2 linked regions of the Homo sapiens genome follow. The protein of the gene in region 1 purifies or fractionates together with the protein of each later gene. This does not show direct contact. Each region holds a gene or a part of one and is shown on either strand. Other genes may lie near its edges.

Evidence for each region.
Region 2: the proteins of PDHX (region 1) and PREPL purify together in Homo sapiens (affinity purification with mass spectrometry; 2 studies listed by BioGRID and IntAct, with this or other methods). This does not show direct contact.

What each region holds. Positions count from the first base shown.
Region 1 is NC_000011.10:34,961,608-34,968,633, reverse strand, and holds part of PDHX (pyruvate dehydrogenase protein X component, mitochondrial isoform 1 precursor), read right to left. Parts: intron 1,995-7,026; coding exon 1,820-1,994; intron 1-1,819.
Region 2 is NC_000002.12:44,323,480-44,330,505, forward strand, and holds part of PREPL (prolyl endopeptidase-like), read right to left. Parts: intron 5,634-7,026; coding exon 5,458-5,633; intron 3,450-5,457; coding exon 3,233-3,449; intron 1-3,232. UniProt on the Homo sapiens protein: Serine peptidase whose precise substrate specificity remains unclear. Does not cleave peptides after a arginine or lysine residue. Regulates trans-Golgi network morphology and sorting by regulating the membrane binding of the AP-1 complex.

The DNA.
Region 1 (7,026 bases):
ATAACATGAGTATCTTATTTCTTACAGATTCATAATAGAAAGTATGAATGAGATAATAAAATATTCCTATAACTTCACTGTAGTTTTTCCATTCTGTTCCTTGGATCTCTCAAAAAAGCATGACAGATTTTAAATTATATCTAATTCCTTTCTTGTCCTTCACTCTATTTTGGGATTTCATTACAATCACTTCAAGATAATACAAAGCAAATGAAAGTGCGGCTGATTTCATTTTTACAAATATCATTAAGAAATTAAACATTTTATGTTAGCAAAGTACTTGGTCAAGTAGAATAAATGCTCTCTACATACCATAAGAATTTGAAAGTAAGGTTTACCTCCTTAATTTGAATAACTTTTTTTTTTTTTTTTTGAGATAGGGTCTTCCTCTATTACCCAGGCTGGAGTGCACATAGCTCACTACAGCCTCAACCTCCCAGTCTCAAGTGATTCCCCAATCTCCACCGCCTGAGTAGTTGGACTACAGGCACACACTACCACATCCAGCTGATTTTAAAATTTTTTTGTAGAGATGAGGTCTCACTATGTTGCCCAGGCTGGTCTTTGAATGCCTAGGTGCAGGCAATCCTCCCACCTCAGCCTCCCAAAGTGCTAGGATTACAGGTGTAAGCCACCACACCCAGCCTTGAATAACCTACTTTTAAAAGACATATGATTGAATTATACATATTTCATAGTCCATATACATTATATAGTCAAAGAGTGGACTATACACTCAATATACATAGTATCTTATCCAACTGCATGTCCTTAAAGAGCAGGTTATTCAAGTATGCAGTATATTAATCATTAATGGATATTTAAAAATCTGTTTCCCATGAAAGTTGTACTGTTTTCAACTCTTTTAAAATATCATATGGTATATAGTTCTCCACTAGGAGTACACATTTATCTATTTATTTTTTTAAGTGCCCATTCGATTTTAAATAAACTGGGCTATCCTACATTTCTTCTGATAGGAAGAAAATAACCTGAATAGGAAAGGCACAGAGAGGCAAAATGGAGTAATTTGAAAACAAAAAGGGGCTGTTATACTGCATGCATCTGAGAAGGAAAGAATGACTAGCTACATAGTTCTTCATAGTGAGATTATCAATTCCCTAGTTAAAAAGTAGAACATATCCACAAAAGGGAGCTAGTGTCAGCTACTAATTATTAGTATCACACTTAAGACATGAAACATGAGATTGTAGAGAATATATATGTTACTGAAGTTGTGGAACTTGTGGTAACTTTAAATTGAATTATAGTTCTAATGTTTATTTGGAAGTTAACACACAAACAAATTTTGGTTTCTGATAGGAAATCTGTAAAACAAAGCATTTGGAGTGTTTTATCCTTATCACTTAGCTACTATTGAAACGGATTAATAAAACTAATCTGTTTTAAATCTACTCTTAAAACACATAGTAATTGTTCTTATTTTCTCTCTCACACTTGAATCTGAAAAATAAAAATCTAGGCCAGGTGCGGTGATTCACACCTGTAATCCCAGCACTTTGGGAGGCCAAGGCGGGTGGATCACCTGAAGTCAGGAGTTTGAGACCAGCCTAGCCAACATGGTGAAACCCCGTCTCTACTAAAAATACAAAAATTAGGTGGGTGTGGTGGTGCGTGCCTATAATCCCAGCTACTCAGGAAGCTAAGGCAGGAGAATCACTTGAACTTGGGAGGCAGAGGCTGCAGTGAGCCAAGATTGTGCCATTGCACTCCAGCCTGGGTGACAGTGCAAGACTCTGTCTCAAAAAAAAAAAGAAAAACAAGAAAAAGAAATAAAAATCCACTTAGAGAACACTACCACTGCATTGGGTTGTCCAGGAGTTGATACTGGTGGGATCACAGGCCGGGGATAAGATGGTCCAGCTGTGGCCTGTAGGGGCGAAGGTGCTGTGGGAGTGGCTGTGGGGGCTGGAGTTGGTCTGGACTCGGTAATCTTGCCCGTTTGTTTCAACTGGACAAGTTTGAGAGCATCCCTGGAAATAAGAGCAAAGTAGATAACCATAATTAGCAATAAGGAATATAACAGAACTTTCAGAAAACGCAGGTGAGATGTGGAGAAAAGATACAGAAATATACAGATGTCAAGGTTATAATTAAAAACCAGTAATTTGAGCTAGAAAATTAAATCCTGTCTCTTACCTGGTCTGCTGACCATTATTTGTCACGTTCTAATATTTGCATATTTTCAAAAGCCAAACAATTAAAATGTTATTAAAATTGGGCATAAGTAGTGATTTTTAAAAAGGAAATTAGTCTTTTTTTCTGTGCAGTGGACGTTATTTGGTAGATGAACAATTAATTAAACCACTCTCATCCTTTATACTCATGAAATAATATTCACATGGCATTCAAAAAGTGTCAAGTTTATTGTAAATATGGCTTTCACCAGGATACTTCCTACATCATTGTTCACTTATTGTTTATTCATTGTTTATTATAGTGCAAATCAGCTTATTTATGACCAGGAAATCAAACCATTTTTAATTTTGCTAATATGCCATCAGTACAATCTAATATAACAAATCTAACCTATGATATCTTTTAGAATGAAAAATAACTAGTTACAGACTTGCCTTTGTATTACTCTGTAAAACAAAGGTATTTTTGTCTTGTAAGAGGATATAATTAGATTACTAAATATGCTAAGCCCTCAACTCACTATGCTAAGTTACAGTGGTATTAGGCAATATATTTTCTTAAAATAATTTTTGGAACATTTTAATATCCAATAAGTATTTTGGAAAGTATTTTTTCCAATTTAAGAAAAAAAATTGTTTTATATAATCTAAAAAGAACTTCAGGATGACACAAAATCTAAGGAAAAATTATTTCTCAGTTAATATTTTGGTATTATTTTTCCAAAAATTTGATGAAAGATAAAAGCTAGCACCTGTTGAGCATATTTGAGAAGACCCCTTTACTTATGGCAACATGGTAGGAAGAATTCTGAGATGGCCCCAATATTCCTGCCCCTGGTGTACATGCCCCATATCATCCCTCTTGACTGTATCTGGCCTGTGAATATGATGGATGTCACTCCCATTATTAGGTCCTATTATGTGACAAAATTGGTGGCATTTTATAGATATATGAGGCTCCAAATCAGTTGCATTTGAGTTAACCAAAAGGCAAACTACCCTGGAGAGGGCAGATATATCAGGTAATCTCTTAAAAGAAATTAGGCCTTCCTGGAAGAAGAGACTTGAAGTAAAGAGATAAAACTGCTGGCCCGGGAGAAGCAAACATGCATGTTGTGAACCGCCTATGGAGACCACGCATGGCAAGGCCCTGCACGTGGCCTCTGGGAGCTGTCAGTGGTTCTTGGCTGAGAGCTAGAAAGAAAACAAGGGCCACAGTCCTACAGTCCCAAGGAACTGCATTCTGTCAACAACCACATGAGCTTGGAAGAGGACCCCAAGCTTCACATGAGTCCCCAGCCTTGGCCAACACTTTGATTTCAGCCTTGTGAGACCATGAGTTCAGAACCTGGCCATGCTATGCCAGGACTTCTAACCTATTGAACTGTTAGAAAACAAACAGGTATTATTTTAAGCTGGTAAGTTTACTGTAACTTGTTATGCAATAATAGAATATCAACACAAGCAGGAACAGTCTAACTGGGGTGCAAAAATCTGTATCGTTAATGCCCGAATACATCTATTTAAAAAAAAGGTTGCTGACACTAAATTGACACATTTTTAGCATAACTATTACTTATTAGCATATTTAGTAATATGTAATATTTAGTTATGCTAATAATATGCTAATAGCTAGCTAATATTAGTTATGCTAATAGCTAATATTAGTTATGCTAATAGCTAATATTAGTTATGCTAATATTACATATTTAGCATAACTATTACTGCTACTTTATTTTTTAAAAAGCAGTTTAGTTTTATCTCTGTAGTAATTAAGGTTCTTGGGTAGGTTAATCATAAAGAAGCAAGAACAAAATTGCTTCTTCTTGCTCACAAAAACTTGTATTGCTGATTTTATTTTTTTTTTATTTTTTAAAGAGTCTCACTCTGTCACCCAGGCTGGAGTGCAGTGGCGCGATCTCAGCTCACTGCAACCACCGCCTCCAGGGTTCAAGAGATTCTCATGCCTCAGCCTCTTTAGTAGCTGAGATTACAGGTGTGCATCACCACGCCTGGCTAATTTTTATATTTTTAGTAGAGATGGGGTTTTACCATGTTGGCCAGACTGGTCTCAAACTCCTGGCCTCAAGTGATTCGCCAGCCTTGGTCTCCCAAAGCACTGGGATTACAGGTGTGAGTCACTGCACCTGGTCTTTTTATTGCTGATTTTATACTTACATACCTATGAAGTATAAATCTTAATTATTGTTTAGTAACAGCCAATGATTTAGTTTTTTGTGAGGCAGAAAATGGTTTTAATGATTTCTGCACATTAAATAATCAGACTAAACTTGGAGCATTAGGTAGACATTAAAAGCTATAAAAATTAGGAGAAAAATATACCACACAAATTCATTCTGGCCACTGGCAGAAATAGGCAGATAGGCAGAGGATGCTCTGGAAGTTAACTCAGGTACAACCTTCTCTACTGGGTTCCCTGAGAGAGCAATTCATTTGGGTGTGACATGAATTCATTTTGAAAATACCACTAAAACACACTAGGCACTTGCCTGTCATACTTACCTAATTTTTGATGCTGTGTGATGAATACAAACATTACTACAACTATGATTTAGGACACAGATGTACCAAAGACATTGGGGCTGCAGGCAAAGAAACTAAATGTGTTCTGCTTCTAATTGTGGCCTCGACACTGCTTTCTTAAAACAGTCACATGTACAAGCAAAGTCAAGTCTATATTCTTTGGTACAACATGTATTCTGAGCAATGCTTGTTTTAAGGCAAAATTAAAATAGCAGCCCTGATACCCAAGATTTTCTTCACAAATACAGTGGGCTGGAGGCATTTCCTTCAGCATTTGGAACTGATTTTTCTACCCAGACTTTTAGTGGACATGGTATGGAGCATGTCCTCACCGTGTCAAGAACGTGTGTTGGCTGGGCACAGTGGCTCACGTCTGCATTCCCAGCACTTCGAGAGGCTGAGGTGGGAGGGTCACCTGAGGCCAAGAGCTTGAGACCAGCCTGGGCAACCTAGTGAGAAACCGTCTCTACAAAACTGTTTTAAAAATTTAGCCAGGCATGGTGGCACACCTGTAGTCCCAACTATTTGGGAGGTTGAGGTGATAGGACCACTTCAGCCTAGGAGTTCAAAGCTGCAGTGAGCTATGAATACACCACAGCACCCCAACCTGGGTGACAGAGTGAGAGCCTGTCTCTCTCTTAAAGAAAAAAAAATTCAAAACGTTAAAAAATAAAAAAGTGTGCTAAGATATTTTGGGGACAGCTATGCCAAAGCCTGCAATTTTTCAACCATAGCAGAAGACGACATTAGGCTAAAATTTTTTCCAAAGCTCACCTTAATGATAAACTTAAAATGCAGGCATTTTTAGCAGTATAGAAAAGCAAAAATCCTCAATAATATATGCTTTCAGGATCCATTTTTCTCATGAAATCTTTTGTACTAGTTCTTATTTTGAAGACCAAAGGCTGATGCCTTTCTCGTGGAGAGTTAAGGAATAAAGGCAGGGAAGAGAAAAGGGTAACAGGGTAGAAAAGATGGCAATAATACTAAAAGCCTAACTCTTTAATACTGCTTCCTTATGGTATTCAGGAGATAATACCATTTTGTTCTTAAGAAATGTTTCATTAATATTATAACTTTCAACTCAGGTTTAAAAAAAGATATTTGCGCATCATATATGTATTAAGCACACATGGAAAGAAAAGGAAGGAAGAAACCTTTATTTCTTTATTTTACTGCTGTCACACTACTGAACACCATATTACCAAATTTAAGAGGCTTTTCTTAGATCCTACCATCCTTGACTTTTCCCACATTTCCCAGGTATCCTCCAACTCAAGGATTTTAACCTCTAGTTTCCCTATTGATGATCTCAATTATAACTATTGCTTTATTATCTACCAAATCTACCTCTCTAATCCCCAACTATCTCCTGAGATACATCTTCATCTCATTGATCCCAATACCTACATGGCTTCTAAGTCCTGACAATAAGCTTCAAACATTACTAACTCCACCAAAACAAATGCTTCCCAAATCCATTATTTCTATTTATGGAGACCAAACTATCATCACCTAGACCAGATCCAAATTCATTCCCTTACTTGTTGCTACTCTGGCCTACACTCCACATTTAATCTGCAAAGGCTTCTGGACTTTATCCTTACAATGTTGTCTGTATCAGGGATCTCCCTTTTAGTTCTTCTAACCACATTCAAGTATTCATTACCTCTTACATGGATTACTTTAGGAGCCTATTAATTTATCTCCTTATCTCATCTTTTTCTGCTCCAGTTTATCTTACACAAATTTGCAGAACTGATCCCCCTAAGGTGCAGCAATCATTATTTTACATTTCACCAAATCCTCAAAGATTAATGAATTAAATACAGACTCTTATTCCTAATCCTCAGAATTATGAGCAAGGCAAATCTACTTTGTTATAAAAATAGTTGCTTTCTCCCATTTTTACAGAGAGTGCTACTAAGGCACAGACTGGTAGAGACTAACAAGATTAAGATACCAACAGTAGACACAAATCAGGATTGGTGTGGGGAAAAAACTGGGATTAACTGGCAACCAAGGTTCTTAATTTTAATTTTTTACAGCTAAGTGTAACTTTTAAATCCTTTAACTAAAAATCCCATGGTCTGGGATGTTGCCTTTCAGTCAGCTCTCAGGACAGCTGATTTCCAACTCATGCAGTGTGGCACGAACTTCACAGTATGTGTGTGATAGAACCACATACATTCAGTTAACAAATTAGTAAGAGTGTAATACACATAAATGAGGATATCTAAGAATTAAATCTATATACTGCTTTCAATAAAATAAACACCCAACAGTAAGCCAAAGCTTTCATGAAGAGTAAAATAACCCAGTG
Region 2 (7,026 bases), on another chromosome or scaffold:
TATTTTATGAATATACATACTAATATGAGAGAAAATAACTCAAGCCATGTAGATTCCTAGGAGCTAGAATACTCAGTCCTTAACCAGGGCCTGTAATTTATAACCTACTTTTAAAGTCTTCAGATTCCTTAAATGACATATAACAAGAAATGGTTTATCTTCTAATTTCACAATATTTATTTTTAGCTTAGTACCTTTTATTCATTTATATTTTTTCTTATATAAAAGCAATAAATGCTACTGTCTCATACCAATTAGGACAGTTAGTTATTATATTAAAACAACAACAACAACAACAAGTATTGGCAGTAATGTGGAGAAACCGGAATCCTGATACACTGGTGGTTGGAATGTAAAATGGGGGAGCTGCTTTGGAAAACAGTATGGTGGTTCATCAAAGAGTTAAGCTTAAGATTACCATATGATCCAGCAATTCCACTCCTGGCATATAATCCCCAAAACTGAAAGCAGGGTCTTAAAGAGATCTGCATACCTATGTTCACAGCAGCATATTCACAACAGCCAAAAGGTGGAAGCAACTCAAGTGTCCATTAACCAAAGAACGAATAAGCAAAATGTGGTATACACATGCAATATTACATGGAATATTATTCAGCCTTAAAAATGAATAAAATTCTGATCCACGCTACAATATGGATGAACCTCAAGGATATAATCTAAGTGAAATAAGCCAGTCACAAAAAATTTTGTATGACTCCACCTATGTGAGGTGTTTGAGTAGTCAAATTCACAGAGACAGAGGCTGTGGGAAGAAGCAAATGGAGAGCTGTTTAATCGGTACAGGGTTTCAGTTTTGTTAAGATGAAAAACGAGTTCTGGAGATTGACTGCATAAGCCTATGAGTGCACTTACCACTACTGAACTATTCACTTAAAAATGGTTGAGATGGTAAATTTTATGGTATTTTACCATAATTAAAAATTTTTAAATGAAAAAAATACACAAGGAATAAAGTCTTTTTGACCAGTTGGACATTTTATATTAAAAGCAAAAAACGCTAAGTAAAGAAACTCTGCAAAATACCCAAGGTGAAAGAAGAGAAAACAACCCATTGGCTTATAATTAGTGTTACAAAATTTAATAAAACGAAGGCTGGGTCGCACATGGTGGCTCATGCCTGTAATCCCAGCACATTGGGAGGCTGAGGTGGGCAAATCACTTGAGCCCAGGAGTTTGAAACTAGCCTGGGTAGCATGGTAAAACCACATCTCTACAAAACAACAACAAACCACAAAAATTAGCAGGGCATGGTGGCACATGCCTGTAGTCCCAGATACTCAGGAGGCTGAGGTGGGAGGATCACCTGAGCCCCAGAGGTCGAGGCTGTAGTGAGCTGTGTTCGTGTGCCATTGCATTCCAGCCTGGGTGAAAGAGCAAAACTCTGACTCAAAAAACAAAACAAAACAAAACAAAAAAACAAAAACCCCACAAAAACAACAAAACAAAAATGAAGGCTGTATTTTTCACTTAGCTTTATTTTCTTCTGTTAACATACTTTTTAGCTTTCCCTCATATTAACATTAACCAAGTATAGTGAGTCATCTGTAATTCTTTTTGGCTGCCTACCATATGAACTTTTTTGCATTTGAAAAACCTCCAACCTTATCAGCTAGAGCCTGCCTCTCACTGTGGAGATACTAAGTGCTAGACTTCTCTTTCCCATTTTTCCCTGCAGCTTGGGAGTAGCTGTGTGACCCATGTGTGACTTGGGTCTATCAACCAGACACATGTGCTTTACACTCTGCATGGAAAGTTAGTGATTCAAAGAAGCAGTGATCACAGATAATTTATTCTGGCAAAAGTGCCACAGCTATATCCAGCTCTAGAAGTTGCACTGGCAGTGTGAGGTGATTTGTGCTTGGCAGTGGCGGCAGTAATAGTTTCATTGGGCCAATTCTATGCCTTTGGCTCTGAAGCCTCTAACACTGGTCTGAAGACACCTACATTTTCCTAATGCCCTTTAATCCCTTTTCTGCTTAAATTAGGGTTGATTTTTGGTGCTTATAAGAAGAATTTGACTTATACATGTATAAAAGGTTGTCTCCTAGTCTTCACTATAATAAGCAACCTAGCATAAATATCCTTCTCATCATTTCCTTTTAAATTTCTAAAAGTCAAAATCTAGTTGCTTTGTCTTTAAACTGTAAATAATTCTGCCATTATCTTTGTGCATAGGCTATTCTCCACATTTTTCTGTTTTTAAAAAATAGACTTACAGGTGACTACTATTTAACACTTATTTACAAGCCCACAGTATAAACTCCCCAACCTCAAAATAAAAAATCCTGAAAATAATTTACTCTCTCCCATCTCAGTCATTATTTTTCAGAGTAACCTAGAAGTAGGAGAATGATAGCAGTGAAACCAACTGCTACAATGTAACTTCGTAATTTCTGACACTGGGAAAAGATAATCATTTTCAGAACAGGGTAAGATATTTCAATTAAAATACGGAAAAACTATGCCCAAACGACCATTAAGAATGGACTATCTAAAAATAAAGAGCCTATAAATCTAGGACTGAAATGTTGATGGGCAGTAGCCTGTCAAGGTGACCAGGAGCCAAAGGACTCAGTGCATTCCAGAGTCACAGCGTGCTTTGCCTGGCTTTCTCAACTGGGACTCATATATGCTTCAGTGCTTTTTCACCAATTCTAAATGTCCTTACAAATACAAATGAGCAATGGAAATAGCCATTAATATCTTTCAGTGGAAAGCCTTAAAGATAATAAAGAACACTGTATCAGAGAAGAATAACGGTTAATAGTTGGATTAAAATAACTTTAGAAGTTCTCCTCAAGCTATAATTCTGAGTTTAAAACTTAAAAGCTTTGTTATACTCCTATGCTATGGTAAAACTGTAACAGAAATGTTTTTCTTTCCTTTTTTTTTTTTTTTTTTGACAATGTCTCACTCTGTTGCCCAGGCTGGAGCACAGTGGTCCACTGCAGCCTCAACCTCTTAAGAGATCCTCTTACCAACAAGCCTGGGTAGGTTTTTTTTTTTTTTTAATTTCTTGCAGAGACAGGGTCTCGCCATGTTGCCCAGGCTGGTCTCGAGCTCCTGGTAAGCAATCTGCCCACCTCAGTTTCCCGAAGTGCTGGGATTACAGGCATGAGCCGCTGTGCCAGCCCAAAAACATTTTTCTTAGAGTAGCCTATGGCTTCACACCTCCCCCATTCTATAAACAGTAGAGACAGAGCGTACTCACCTCCAAAGTCACCGCTCTCACCAGCTCTGGATTAGAATTACACAATGCTCCTGCAAGCACCCCTCCAGCACTGAAAGCAGTCAGGGTTGTTAGACTTGGCTGAGAAAAGCCTTGGCCATGAAGCGTCTTAATGCAAGCCTCTAAATCAGCAAGGCCATTGAGTTTTTTAGTTAGGCGGCCATCAGCGTGCCACTGGAGGCCTAACTCACCACCACCTCTGAAATTGAAGGGCAAAAAAGTTTTAGTGGAAAAAAAAAGTTAATACTGTAGGCTGGGGTCAGCGAACTACACCTGGAGGCCTGTTTTTTGTGTGGCCCTGGAGCTAAGACTGGTTTTTGCTTTTTAAAGGTTGAGTGAAAACAAGGAATGTGCAACAGAAACTGTACGCGGCCTGCAAAGCTTAAAATGTGACTATGTAGCTCTTTAGAGAAAAAGGTTTGCCAACTCCTGATATAGACAATCCAGAATTGATTCAACGAATATATTTTGAGTGCCTGCCCATTTATCAGGGATTAAGTACAGACCTTAAAAGTAGAAACAAACGAAAATCCCCTACCGTGGAGAAGACAGTAATTTTGTGGGGTAAGAAAACAACGACTTACCCAGCAATGTGGTGTCATTGCTACAATACAAGTGTATTTAAGGTATTACAGGAGCAGAGGAAAGAACATCCATCTGCCAGGTGAGGGGTATATACACGAGTCAGGAACACAAATGCTTTTAAGGAGATGATGCCTAAACTGAGTTGTGAAGGAAAAATTTGAGTTTCCAGAGGGCAAAGAAAAGGCATTAAGACACAGATACGACACAGCATGTATAAGGGCAAGGAGGTGACAGAGCATGTCATTTAAAAGACATGACTTTGGGGGCTGGACACAGTGCCTCAAGCCTGTCATCTCAGCATTTTGGTAGGCTGAGGTGAGCAGGTCACTTGAGGTCAGGAGTTTGAGACCAGACTGGCCAACATGGTGAAACCCCCGTCTCTCCTAAAAATAGAAAAAATTAGCCAGGTGTGGTGGTGCGTGCCTATAAGCCCAACTACTCGGGAGGCTGAGGCAAGAGAATTACTTGAACCTGGGAGGCGGAGGTTGCAGTGAGCGGAGATTGCGCCACTGCACTCTAGCCTGGGAGACAGAGTGAGACTCCATCTCAAAAAAATACAAAACAAAATAAAAAAAATAAAAGGACATGATTTTGGAAGGCTGAGGCGGGCGGACTGCTTGAGCTCAGGAGTTCGAGACCAGCCTGGGCAACATTGGAAAACCCTGTCTCTACTAAAATACAAAAAAATCGGGCTGGTACGGTGGCTCATGCCTGTAATCCCAGCACTTTGGGAGGCTGAGGCGGGCGGATCACTTGAGGTCAGGAGTTCGAGACCAGCCTGGCCAACATGGTGAAACCCCATCGCTACAAAAATTTCAAAAATTAGTCAGGAGTTATGGCAGGCACCTGTAATCCCAGCTACTCAGGAGGCTGAGGCAGGAGAATCGCTTGAACCCTGGCCAAGATCATGCCACTGCACACTCCAGCCTGGGCGACAGAGCAAGATTCTATCTCAAAAAAAAAAAAAAAAAAATTCAGACAGTGTGGTGGTGTGCGCCTGTAGTCCCAGCTACTCAGGAGCCTGAAGCATGAGAATCACTTGAACCTGGGAGGCAGAGGTTGCAGTGAGCCGAGATTGTGCCACTGCACTCCAGCCTGGGCGACAAAGCAAAACTGTCTCAAACAAAAAAAAAAAAAAAAAAAAAAAAAGGGTCTGATGCTAAATGCCGCTACAGAGATCCATCAGACCATTAGGAGTATTATACTGGGGAATCTGGACTGTGTTCTAGAGATGGGGAGGTGGAGAAGAATTTTAAGCAGAAATACAAAATAATATTTGTGTCTTGAAAACAGCTGAAATAAAATGGAAGTTAAATGGAAAACAGTTCAGATTCAGAGGCTACTTAAACCTGAATTCAGGAGAACTGAAAGGAAATAATAATATTACTAAATAAGTACAGAGTCTGGTACCTCTATGCAAAAATCCTAAAAACCTATCCTTTTGCTTTTTGGATCAACTAATCTGTTAAAGAATCAAGTTTCACCAGTGCTGGTTTAGGAATACAAAAATTGAATAATAAGAATGAAAAAAATAAGCTTTTGTTCCCTGATATATATTGTTATTCTTGACATCTCTCACAATGGTCTAGCACTTACATGCCAGGTAAAATATACTGACTCACCGAACATGGCAGTATGCTAATATCCATCCATCATCCACCAGGACCCGCCTCTCAGGCCTGAAATTCATTTTCAAATCCATTCCATAAGCTCCATATACATGTACCAAGAGAGGTTTCTTCTGCAAGTCCTCAGAGTCAGTTTTGTGGAAAACAGTCATTGGCACTAATTTTCCATCCTAGAAATGAAGAATTACTATGTATGTAAAGAAGAGTCTTTTATAATAACTGTTTTATCCCAATTTAAAATACATTGAGGTGCACTGTCCCCACTTGTGTGCTACCTACTGATGTTGAGCACAAATTTGTTTAAGAAAAAGAATTATGGTCTCTAAAAATAAATCATGGCTTTTGGTTTCAGCTACCTTGCTGTCCTACAGTATTAACCAGAAAAGAGCAGCAAGACTGGCCTGAAAACATTTTATTAAATGCAGCTTTTCATGACAATAATGTAATTTTAAAGAGTTCTTCACTACCTACTATAATTTTAAATTTTCAGATGAAACCAAAATACTTACCAAGGTTAGAAGTCCTAGTATAGCACTCTTCCTATGCCTAAGAGCTAGATATTGGCATTTTTCACTTTTGAGTATCTACAAATATGCTGACTAAAGTCTTACCAGCTCAATTTTCTATATCCTCTGTAGTCGGAATTCTCAACCATTAAGACCTGAAATCTTACTGATGTTACTGATAACTACCACAATCCTCTTCAAAGGCCCATTTAACTTTATTAAAAAAAATTTAAAGTGGTCTTAAAATTTTTCGGTAAAATTCTTTGTAGGGTTAAAGTAAGTTAAATTATTTGTAAGGTTACTAAGTTACTTGTAGGTTATGTAACCATCCCCCAATGTAGCTCAAACTCATCAGTTCCAGTTGATTGAAACTAGGCAGTCTCTGAACAGACAAAAGAACTAATTCTGATCTACCTTTCACACAAAAAAGATAAAGAAATTGGTTTTCACCCTGCTTAAACTAATGAAATAGCACCGTTTACATAAAGAAAATAAATAATACATCCAAGTCACTCTTCATATTTTCATTCTCATTTTGAAAACTTCACTTTGGGGCAATAACTGGAGACAGCAAAATGTAATCAAATAAGGAGGAAATTCTCCTCTCATTCTTCTTTAAAATACCCAAGTTGTTATGACATTGTTAACTTTCACTTTTAGTAAGATTCACTTTTATAAAACTTGATGTAGATTAATTTCTATAAAACACTCTTGGTCTTTTCACTTCCCAACTCTTCCCCAACTTCAATTATACAATCAGAAAAAGTTGCTTGTTGAAAAGTTTTGAAAGGAAGAGGTAAAACAGTAGCTACTCCTGTGATGGGCTGGATCTGGGTTTGCCAGCAGTACTAAAATGCCTGTGGAAAGGTATAGCGCTTCCATTCAGCAGCTGCTTCCCTTCTCCCCTCTTGGCTCTCCAAGAACATGGTGCTTAACTGTTCTTTCCATCTCGGGTCCAATAATTGCAACATTTTGATAGACTAGTCTAATTCCATGTTTGTAAAACCAAATAAAACCTATCTAAAAGATAATACACTAAGTGGGTAACAATGATTAT